2 separate regions of the Homo sapiens genome follow, and region 1 is linked to region 2. Evidence: fine-mapped expression QTL. Tissue or cell type: whole blood. Region 2 holds a variant in brackets; the other region holds the start of a gene. All regions are shown on one strand. Distances are from middle to middle.

Evidence for each region. PIP is the estimated chance that this variant, and not a neighbour inherited with it, causes the effect.
Region 1: it holds the start of STK24, and the variant in region 2 is fine-mapped to the expression of STK24 in whole blood (TOPMed, PIP above 0.99).

The regions. Positions count from the first base shown.
Region 1 is chr13:98,574,087-98,579,086 of GRCh38, forward strand. STK24 (serine/threonine kinase 24) reads right to left here and starts at 3,021. Exons shown (of 11, transcript NM_001032296.4): 1 at 2,659-3,021. The coding sequence starts at 2,700. STK24-AS1 (STK24 antisense RNA 1) reads left to right here and starts at 3,169. Exons shown (of 1, transcript NR_046542.1): 1 at 3,169-4,755. RefSeq lists silencers at 531-590, 2,055-2,924, 2,975-3,284, 3,305-3,454 and an enhancer at 3,545-3,734.
Region 2 is chr13:98,637,230-98,642,494 of GRCh38, forward strand. It overlaps the pseudogene CALM2P4. Among named protein-coding and RNA genes, the nearest start is that of STK24-AS1, 63 kb to the left of the region's middle. The variant C/A (reference allele first, on the strand shown) is at 2,842.

The DNA of each region.
Region 1 (5,000 bases), 63 kb before region 2:
ACGCAACCTCCGCCTCCCGGGTTCAAGTGATTCTCCTGCCTCAGCCTCCCGAGTAGCTGGGATTACAGGCGTGTGCCACCACGCCCAGCTAATTTTTTGGATTTTTAGTAGAAACAGGGTTTCACCATGTTAGCCAGGATGGTCTCGATCTCCTGACCTCATGATCCGCCCACTTCGGCCTCTCAAACTGCTGAGATTACAGACTCTGCTGTCTTTCTAAGCCAACTCCTTATAAGCCCTGGTCAGGAGACAAGAAAAAGGGAGGGCTATGAGGCCTATCAGAGCAAGCCATAGAAGAGATACGGACTTCTCTCCTCCCATTTAGCAGACAACAGTCGAAAGCAGGTGTGTTTTTAATTGAATCTTCAGCAACAACTCTTAGGGAAGCCTCCCAGGGCAGTAGCAACTGCTAATTTGAAGTAGAAAATAAATGTGCTGTTGTTTTTCTTTTGTGGGGTGGGGGAGGAGAAAAGAATGTTCTTCCCCAAATGATACACTGTTACCATACAGTCTGTAGATGTACTTAGGTACAGGAATGACTGGCAGAAGCCAACTTACCTACCTCTAAAACTGTAAAACTGTAACAGCTGAAAATCTGATCATCTTTTCCACTGAGAAACACTTAAGATCTTTCATACTGAGAAAACAAAATAAAAACAGTTCCCATGTAACACAACCTAACAGATACATAATAGTTGAGAGGCAAAGTTATTAAGGAAATGTATCTTCTTTTCCCAAGGTTTAAGAATTCTGACCCACTCAAAAAAAAAAGTGAGGATAAAAATGAAAAGGTGAGATACTAGATATCACCTGGTAACCATCTGATACTGACTTCACGGCACCAGCCAAAGGGGCTTTAGTACCTTTTCAAACTGATTCGCTATCCACAAAGGCCAATTAACCTAGTAAGTGAGGCATTTGTGCTAGATTCCAACCTGATGAACACGGTATAAATATCAACCTAAAGGAAATATTGATAAAACTTTTTTTTTAAATCATTACAAGAGTCCTTTCTTGCTCGACTAGTAAGAAATTACTTTTTTCACCCAGTTCACTCTGACCTACACACCTCTAAATTCATACCAAAGCGGCTTTAGAAAATACCAAGAAACCACATCTGATTGTTACCCAGCAGTCAGCAGAAGTTTAGGTTTTGAATGCATGCTAAATTCAACGCTCCTTAAATGAGAGTCGACAAAAGAATATTCTTCAAGCATCTTCCCAGTCACTCTTAAGATAATAACTTAACTGTTGCTGCTTAAATGTATATTTATTTACTGCTTAAACATATATACACACATATATATACTGCTTATATATACACACACACACACACACACACATATACACACACACACACTTGGACTAAAATTCTAGCTGCCATTAAAGTGGTAACTTTGAGTTCCTATTTTTCCAGAATTCAAACCTGAACAGTGAAATCCAGTTTTCTTTTTACGGTTTCAAAAAAAGAAGGGAGAGGGATGATCTCACTGGAAGAGGCGAGCAGACCCCAGAGGCAGTCCCAGGTCTGGGCTCTGTGCTTCTCAGCCCTCAAGACACAGGGAAGGAGCCTGTTGGTACCTGTAAATCAACCAGTAATCTACTTGGATGCTTTTGGTTTTCTTCAAACACTTAACGTTCACTCAGCTAAACTGGCAGAGCAAACTTTCATGACATATCCTAACTGCATCCTAAGATTTCCATCCTAAGCATTTTGCCACCATTTCTGCGCCTACAAAGTTTACAAGAGTTAGCCAAGGACGGTAGCTTTGTTTTTCAAAGGGCTAAAAGCAACGACAACGAAAACAACAACAACAAAAAACCTTTAACTTATACATGTAAATTTGAAATTCAACTCCTCTCCCACTCCCCAAAAAGTCACTGGTAGGCCAAGGTGTCACCAAGTACCGAAAGAGAGGTTTACTGGGCGAAGAATTCCTGTAAATGCAACCAAGTCTCAAAGTGAAAGTCCAGGGTCCCGGGGCCGGGCCCGGGACCCTGGTGCGCGGCTGTCCGAGGGATTCCTCCTTCCAGAAGGTTTGCAACTCGCACTTTCCCCCGGTCCGCAGGTGCACGGGGGCTCCGGGCAAAGCCACTGCAAGTGGAACTCGCGGTTACCTTCCTCCACTCCACCCTGCCTACTCCGCTCGGGCCCGGACGAGTCCAGGCGCGCTCCCCGTCCCCGCCCTGCCCAGGTCTCCCGCCCGCCTGCCCGGGGGTGGGGGACGAGCCTGGGGGACGCGTCCTGGGGCCCTCCGCCAACCCGGCCACCACGCAGGGCCCCGGGACCCGGCGGGGGCCTCCAAGGGCATCACTCCACCTCACTTCTCCCGGGGACAGGGCCACCCAGGGCCTGCAGCTCCGGAAGAGTGTTGGGGCGAGGGGAGCGCGGAGGACTAGGCGCCCGCACCCCCACATCCGGACCCAGGCCGCGGTTCCTACGGCTCCTGCACGCACACGCCGGAGACCTCGGCCGCCGGAGCCGGCAGGGACGCCCAGGGACTCGGACTCGGACCCCCGGCCGAGCCGGGCGCGCGGGGAGCCAGGCTCCGGCGCGACCCCGGCCGGCTGAGCGTAGGGGGACGCCGTGTGGATACCGCCAAGTTGCTGCTTCCGCCCCGGTCGCGCATCCCGGCCCCGCGGCCCGCGCCCGCCTACCTGCATGCCGGGCAGGCCCGACTGCACCGGGGAGTGAGCCATGGCGCTCAGGACGGCCACTTCCTGGGACGGGACGGCCGGGCCGCGACGATCCGCGCGGGGCGGCGAGGCCCGCGGGCCGCGCGCAGCCCTCGGGCGGCGGGGCCGGCCGGAGCCCGAGGCCACCCCAGCCCTGGCGGGTCCCGGCCGGGCGGCGGGGGCTCAGCGGCGGGTGGCGGGCCGCGTCTCCATGCACGGCGCCAGGGAGGAGCTGCTGGGGGCGCAGGGCCTCGCGCGCACTGCCGCCGCCGCCGCTGCTGCCGCTACTGCTGGGCTGGAGCCGGGCGGCCTGGGCCCGCGCGCGCTGGCCGCTGGAGCCGGAGTGGGCGCGCACAGCCCGCCGAGCCCGCGAGCGCCGAGCGCGTCCCGCCCCGGCCCGGCCCCCGCGCCCGCCCCCACGGCCCGGCCGGGGACCCCGCCCCGCGCTTCCGGGAGGGGGAGGGGAGAGGCCGGTGGCCGCGCGGGAGCCCTAGGCCGCAGCCGCCGCCTGTCGGCCCGGCCCGGGTCCCAGCTGCTCCTGCGGCGCTCCCACGCCCCCGCGGGCGGGCGGCGGGGCCGGGAGGGGGCCTCGGCTGGGGCGGGCGCCGGGAGGGACCGAGTCGGGGCCGGAGGCTGGCCGCGTGCCCACCGGGCCGGCGCCGGGGCGAGCCTGGGCCGCGGCCCCCTCTTCCCGCCAGCCAGCCCACCCCGCCCCGGCGGCCTCTGGGAAAACGCGTCCCGGGCGAGCCCCTGAGGGCAGGATCGGAGTCGGGGGCACCTGGGGAAGGAGAGCGCCCCGTGGGGCCTCGGCCGGTGGCCTGTGCCAAAAGGCCGGGCAGAGCTGCTTCGGTGTCTGGGTGAAGTTTCCAGCCAACCCAAGAAGGAAACCGAAAGGGAAGAGGCCGAGAGAGAGGTTAATTCCTAGTGCTTTGGTTACCGAAAACAGCCCGGCTGGGACTGCTGGGCTGGGAACTTAGCTAAGCAGTGCGGAGGCTGAACCCCACCATCTCTGGGATCCGCAGCAAATCAGAAGCCCCCACCCACGATAAGGGGAAAATGGGGCGCAGAGGGCAGGGAGGAAGGGAAGAGAATGGAAGGAAAGCGCGTCTGGACTTTGAACTGCAGCCCTCTCCCTCTTTCCCTTGCCTCGGAAGCTCCAGGCCCACTCAGCACCAGTTCTGTCTCCTCTTTTCAGCCGCCTTCTCTCTAGCTACTGAGGGGAAAAGTCAGGATGAAGCGGGTCCCTCGGCCTCCAGAAGGTGTTTTATTACAGTCGCAAACAGGTAGAGCGGCAGCCACCCCAGTGATGACTCCCTGCTCCTTAGATTGTAGGGACGCTGGCACCTCACTCATGCTCCTAAGTGGCCATTTTGCGCCCTGGCTGGGCGAGTTAGGCAGACAAAATGAGCCCCCAAAAGTTTAAAGGCCTCCACCAAAGGAGTATTTCTTTTCTGAGGTGTCATTGTATTCCATCCACGAACTTCAGTTCCCCCGGGTGCTCTGGATCTGACATGGAGTAGGATGCTAACATCTAATCCCTTCTTTCCCTTTGGAAAGATGCATGTTTTTTCTCGGAGTCCTAGGGAATACCTTAGAATACTTTCATGGTTGTCATTGGTACACCCATCCCTTGAGGAGCCCTGCCACCCGTAAGTAGGACTGCAAGGAAATACAAAATTAAGAGAAGTATGAACCCTGATACCCAGGAACTTAAAATCAGGTGTATAAATTTTGTACACCTAAAAAATATGGTACCTAAAGAGGCGAACAGCAAAACAAGCAAGAATGTGAATCTTTAAAATGTTTCTATTCTTCAGCGCAGCCCAGGAATTCTACCTAAAGTAACATATCCTAAGGCAACAACCAAGAAGTGTGGAAGAATGCATGTAAGAAGACACAGTGATGTTTAGAATCCTGGGGAAACGGAACAGCCAAAAAGTCTCACAGAGGTTAAGTAAATAATAGCATTTTCATACGAGTACTATGTAGTCATTTAAAATTATGTCTTTCAGTACCTAGTAATGGGGAAAATGTATTCATTATATATTATTAAAGAAAATACAGGGTACAAAACACTGTATATAGACTGATCTCAAATGACTATATATATATTAATATATATGGCCTACAGACACACAGTCATGTATTGCTTAACAATGGGTATACATTCTGAGAAATGTGTTCTTAGTTGATTTTGTCACGTGAGCATCATAGAGTGTACTTCCAGAAACCTAGATGGCATAGCCTACTACACACCTAGGCTATATGGTATGACGTATTGCACCTGGACCACAAACCTGAACAGCATGTGACTGAACTCAATA
Region 2 (5,265 bases):
GGTCTCAAACTCTTGACCTCAAGTGATCCAGCCGCCTCGGCCTCCCAAAGTGCTGGGATTACAGGTGTGAGACACCACGCCTGGCCAATCTTTTCAACTTTTATTTTAGCTTTGGGGGTACACGTGCAGGTTTGTTACCTAGGTAAACTTGTGTTATGGGGTTTGATGTAGATTGTTTCATCACCCAGGCCCTAAGTCTAGTATCCAATAGTTATTTTTTCTGATCGTCTCCCTCCTCTCACCCTCCACCCTCAAGGAGGACCCAGTGTGTGTTGTTCCCTTCTTTTTTCTATGTGTTCTCACCATTTAGCTCTCACTTACAAGTGAGAACATGCGGTGTTCCTGTTAAAGATAATCTATCAATCATTTCTTAATGAATGATAATGTATCATTAAGAAATGATTGATGCATTATCCTTACATTTTTTATTTTGAGTAATGATAAAAATTGCTTTCCCACTGAAAGTTATTTTATAACTTTCCTTCCTATGTTTTTTGGAAAAATGATGGGCCGGGCACGGTGGCTCATGCTTGTAATCCCAGCTGAGGCATTTGGGAGGCTGAGGCAGGCAGATCATGAGGTCAGGAGATCGAGACCATCCTGGCCAACATGGTGAAACACCATCTCTAATAAAAATACAAAAATAAGCTGGGTGTGGTGCCGCATGCCTGTAGTCCCAGCTACTTGGGAGGCTGAGGGAGGAGAATCATTTGAACCCAGGAGGCAGAAGTTGCAGTGAACCGAGATTGCACCACTGTACTCCAGCCTGGAGACAGAGCAAGACTCCATCCCAAAAAAGAAAAAAAAAAAAAGATATTAGGGCAGCTACATTTGTGAGGCCTGGATGAGTGAGAAGGAGAGACTTAGCCATGTATTATGGTAGTTTATGTATTTCTTTTCATAGTGTCTGAGAAATGCTATATGAGAACTTGAGTTATTTTGAAATTAATTTTTTAATTATTGAACTCCATTCTTTAATCGCACTCCACTCACACTGGATGATGTGAGTGAGGGCTCTACGGGGGTCATATTACCTCAAGGATACAAAAGGTATCCACACTCATTTTTTTTTCTTGAGATGGAGTCTTGCTCTGTCTCCCAGGCTGGAGTGCAGTGGTACGATCTCAGTTCACTGCAATCTCCATTTCCCAGGTTCAAGGGATTCTCCTGCCTCATCCTCCCAAGTAGCTGGGATTACAGGCACCCGCCACTACACCCAGCTAATTTTTGTATTTTTAGTAGAGACGGGGTTTCGCCATGTTGGCCAAGCTAATCTTGCACTCTGGACCTCGAGTGATCCACCCGCCTTGGCGTCCCAAAGTGCTGGGATTACAGGCGTGAGCCACTGCACCTGGCCCACATTCAGTTTTAAAAAGAGTGTGTTTACTAATGTGAAGTGAGGCTTAAAGTTCAAGTGTCCTGCAAATTTTAAGTACGATTTCAAGAACAACTAATAAACATATAAAAACATGCTCAATCTTATGAGACATCATAAAAATCAAATTAAAGTTCCAGTGTGACACTATTGCATACTCAACACAATGGCTAAATGGAAAAGGACAAATACTGAGTATTAGTTAGGATATGAAAAAAACAGAATGTTTACGCCCTGCTGTTGTGAATATAAATTGGTACAATCAATGTGAAAAATTAGTGATATCTACCTAATGCTACCGTACATATCCCATGACCTGCCAATTACATACTTAAGTAGATGTTCAAGATAAATGCACAGCTATGTTTGACAAAAGATATACACAAGAATATTCATAGCAGCACTATGAGACTAGTCCGAATTGGAAGCTACTTAACTCTCCATCAACAGTGGAATGGGCCAGGTGTGGTGGCCCATGCTCGTAATCCCAGCACTTTGGGAGGCTGAGGCTGGAGGGTTGCTTGAGCCCAGAAGTTTGATACCAGCCTGGGCAACATAGGGAGCCCTGGTCTCTACAAAAACATTTAAAGAATTGGCCAGGCATGGCGACGTGTTCCTGTGGTCCCAGCTGCTCAGGAGGCTAAGGCAAGAGGACTGCATAAGCCCAGTGTGAGGTTACAGTGAGCTGTGGTCACACCACTGCACTCAAGCCAGGGCAACAGAGCAAGACCCTATCTCAAAAAAACACCAAACACACACACACACACACACACACACACACACACACACACACACACACACACCAGTAGAATACACAAAAAAATTATGGTATAGTCACATTGCTGTATACAAAACTATATCCACTAAGAATAAAGGCCAGGTGCACCTTGAATCCCAGCACTTTGGGAGGCCAAGGGGGAAGGATGGCTTGAGGCCAGGTGTTTGAACTAGCTTGCTTAACACAGTGAGACCCCGACTCTGGATAAGTTAAAAAAAAAATTAGGCCAGGCGCAATGGCTCATGCCTGTAATCCCAGCACTTTGGGAGACCAAGGCGGGCAAATCACCTGAAGTTGAGAGTTCGAGAGCAGCCTAGCCAACATGGTTAAACTCCGTTTCTACTAAAAAAAAAAATGTTAGCTAGATGCAGTGGTGGGCGCCTGTAATCCCAGCTACTAGAGAGGCTGAGGCATGAATCCGGGAGACAGAGGTTTCAGTGAGCCGAGATCATGCCACTGCACTCCAGCCTGGGCAACAGAGCAAGACTCCATCTCAAAAAAAAAAAAAAAATTAGGTGAGTGCAATGGCACATGCCTGTAGCCCCAGCTACTTGGGAGGCTGAGGAAGGAGGATTGCTTGAGCTCAGGAGTTTGAGGTTGCAGTGAGCCATGATCACACCACTGTACTCCAGCCTGGGCAACAGAGCAAGACACTATCTCAAAACAATAACAACAACAACAACAACAA[C/A]AAACACGAATGAACAACCTGTAACTACATACAATACTGTGGATGAATCTCACAAGCATACAAGCATAACGTCAAGTGAAAGAATCTAGACACAGAATAATGCATACTGTGTGAGTCCATTTATATAAAGTTCAAAAATAAGCAAAACTGCTCTATGGGGTTAGGAATATAAGACAGCAGATACCCTAAGGGGTATAAGAGCAAAAGGAGGCATGAGAGAGCTTCTGATAACACTTGGTCTGTTGATATGAGCCCCATTACATGAGTGTGTTCAATTTGTGAAAATTTACCAATTTTACTATTATTATTTGTGTACTTTTCTGTGTATATTTTACACAAGTTTTAAAAACAAACATGTTTTTATTTAGTAATCATGATTGTTAATTGGTGGAATAAGACACAACTGGTCTCAAAATTCAGTCACATAATGCATTATTATTATTATTATTATTATTTGAGACAGAGTATCACTCTGTCACCCAGGCTGGAGTGCAGTGGTGCAATCTCGGCTCACTGCAACCTCCACCTCCTGGGTTCAAGCGATTCCCCTGCCTCAGCCTCCCAAGTAGCTGGGACCACAGGCATGTGCCACCATGCCCGGATAATTTCTGTATTTTTAGTAGAGATGGCATTTCACCATGTTAGCCAGACTGGTCTCGAACTCCTGACCTCAAATGATCTGCCCACCTTGGCATCCCAAAGTGCTGGGATTACAGGCGTGAGCCACCGTGCCCAGCCTGTGCAAACTCTTCACAGTTTACTTGACCGTCACCATCAATATCTGCTTCCCTGATCATTTCGTCAACCTCTTCATCTGTTAACTTCTCTCCAAGGTTTGTCATCGCATGGTGAAGTTCTGCTGCACTAATATAACCATTGCCATCCTTATCAAACACACGGAATGCTTCTCTCATTTCTTCTTCACTGCCTGCGTCTTTCATTTTTCTTGCCCTCATTGTCACAAATTCAGGGAAGCCAACTCTGCCATTACTATCAGCATCTACTTCATAAATCATGTCCTGTAACTCTGCTTCTGTGGGATGCCGCCTAAGAGACCTCATTTCTGTTCCCAGTTCCTTTGTTGTTATAGTTCCATCACCGTCTTTGTCAAATAGTAAATAAGCTTATTTGAATTCTACAATCTGCTCTCCAGTCAGTTGGTCAGCCATGCTGAAAGCGCTACCGGTTTCCGAGACGCGACTGCACGACCACTCGGCTCGCTCGCTCCACTCGGACTCCCTTCTACTTTAAAGATCAGATAATTTCAATGCTCTTAATTCCAGACCATAGAAAAAAAGAAAACTATAGATCAATTTCACTTATGAATATCAATGCAAAACTCTTAAATATAACTGTAGCAAGCAGAATCCAACAGCGCATTAAAAAATAATACATTGGCCAGGCGCAGTGGCTCATACCTGTAATCCCAGCACTTTGGGAGGCTGAGGCGGGCGGATCACCTGAGGTCAGGAGCTCGAGACCAGCCTGGCCAAAATGGCGAAACCCCATTTCTATTAAAAATACAAAAATTAGCCAGGCATGGTGGCAGGTGCCTGTAGTCCCAGCTACTTGGGAGACTGAGGCACGAGAATCGCTTGAACCTGGGAGGCGGAGGTTGCAGTGAGCCGAGATCGTGCCACTGCACTCCAGCCTGGGCGACAGAGAGAGATTCCATCTCAAAAAAAAAAAAAAAAAAAAAAGTTTGTACAGATGATGATAGCAAAGACCTTGCTCGAAATGTGTTAAATTTCTTTTACAAAATTATTTATTTGCCTTTTCTTTGTTTGTAACTTATCTGTAAAAGGTTTCTCCCTACTGTCAAAAAAAAAAAAAATGCATACATAGTAATTAGGACTTAATTCCTTCATGTTTTCTTCCCCTGTCTCACTGTCATTGTCCTGAAACTTTATTTTAGAAAATTGAGGCCGGGCGTGGTGGCTCACGCCTATAATTCCAGCACTTTAGGAAGCCGAGGCAGGCGTTTTAACTGAGGTCAGGAGTTCGAGACCAGCCTGGTCAACATGGTGAAACCCTGTCTCTACTAAAAATACAAAAATTAGCCGGGCGTGGTGGGACACGCCTGTAATCCCAGCTACTCGGGAGGCTGAGGCAGGAGAATCACTTGAACCCAGGAGGTGGAGGTTACAGTGTTGAGATAGCGCCATTGCACTCCAGCCTGGGCAATAGATTGAGACTCCGTCTCAAAAACAAACAAACACCACTATATATATATATATATGTATACTTAAAAGTAGCACTATTGCAAAATGGGCATATTATTCAGGTACTCTCATACTTTTTTTGAAATGGAGTCTCGTTCTGTTGCCTAGGCTGGAGTGCAGTGGCATGATCTCAGCTCACTGCAATCTCCGCCTCCTGGGTTCAAGCAATTCTCCTGCTTCAGCCTCCCGACTAGCTGGGACT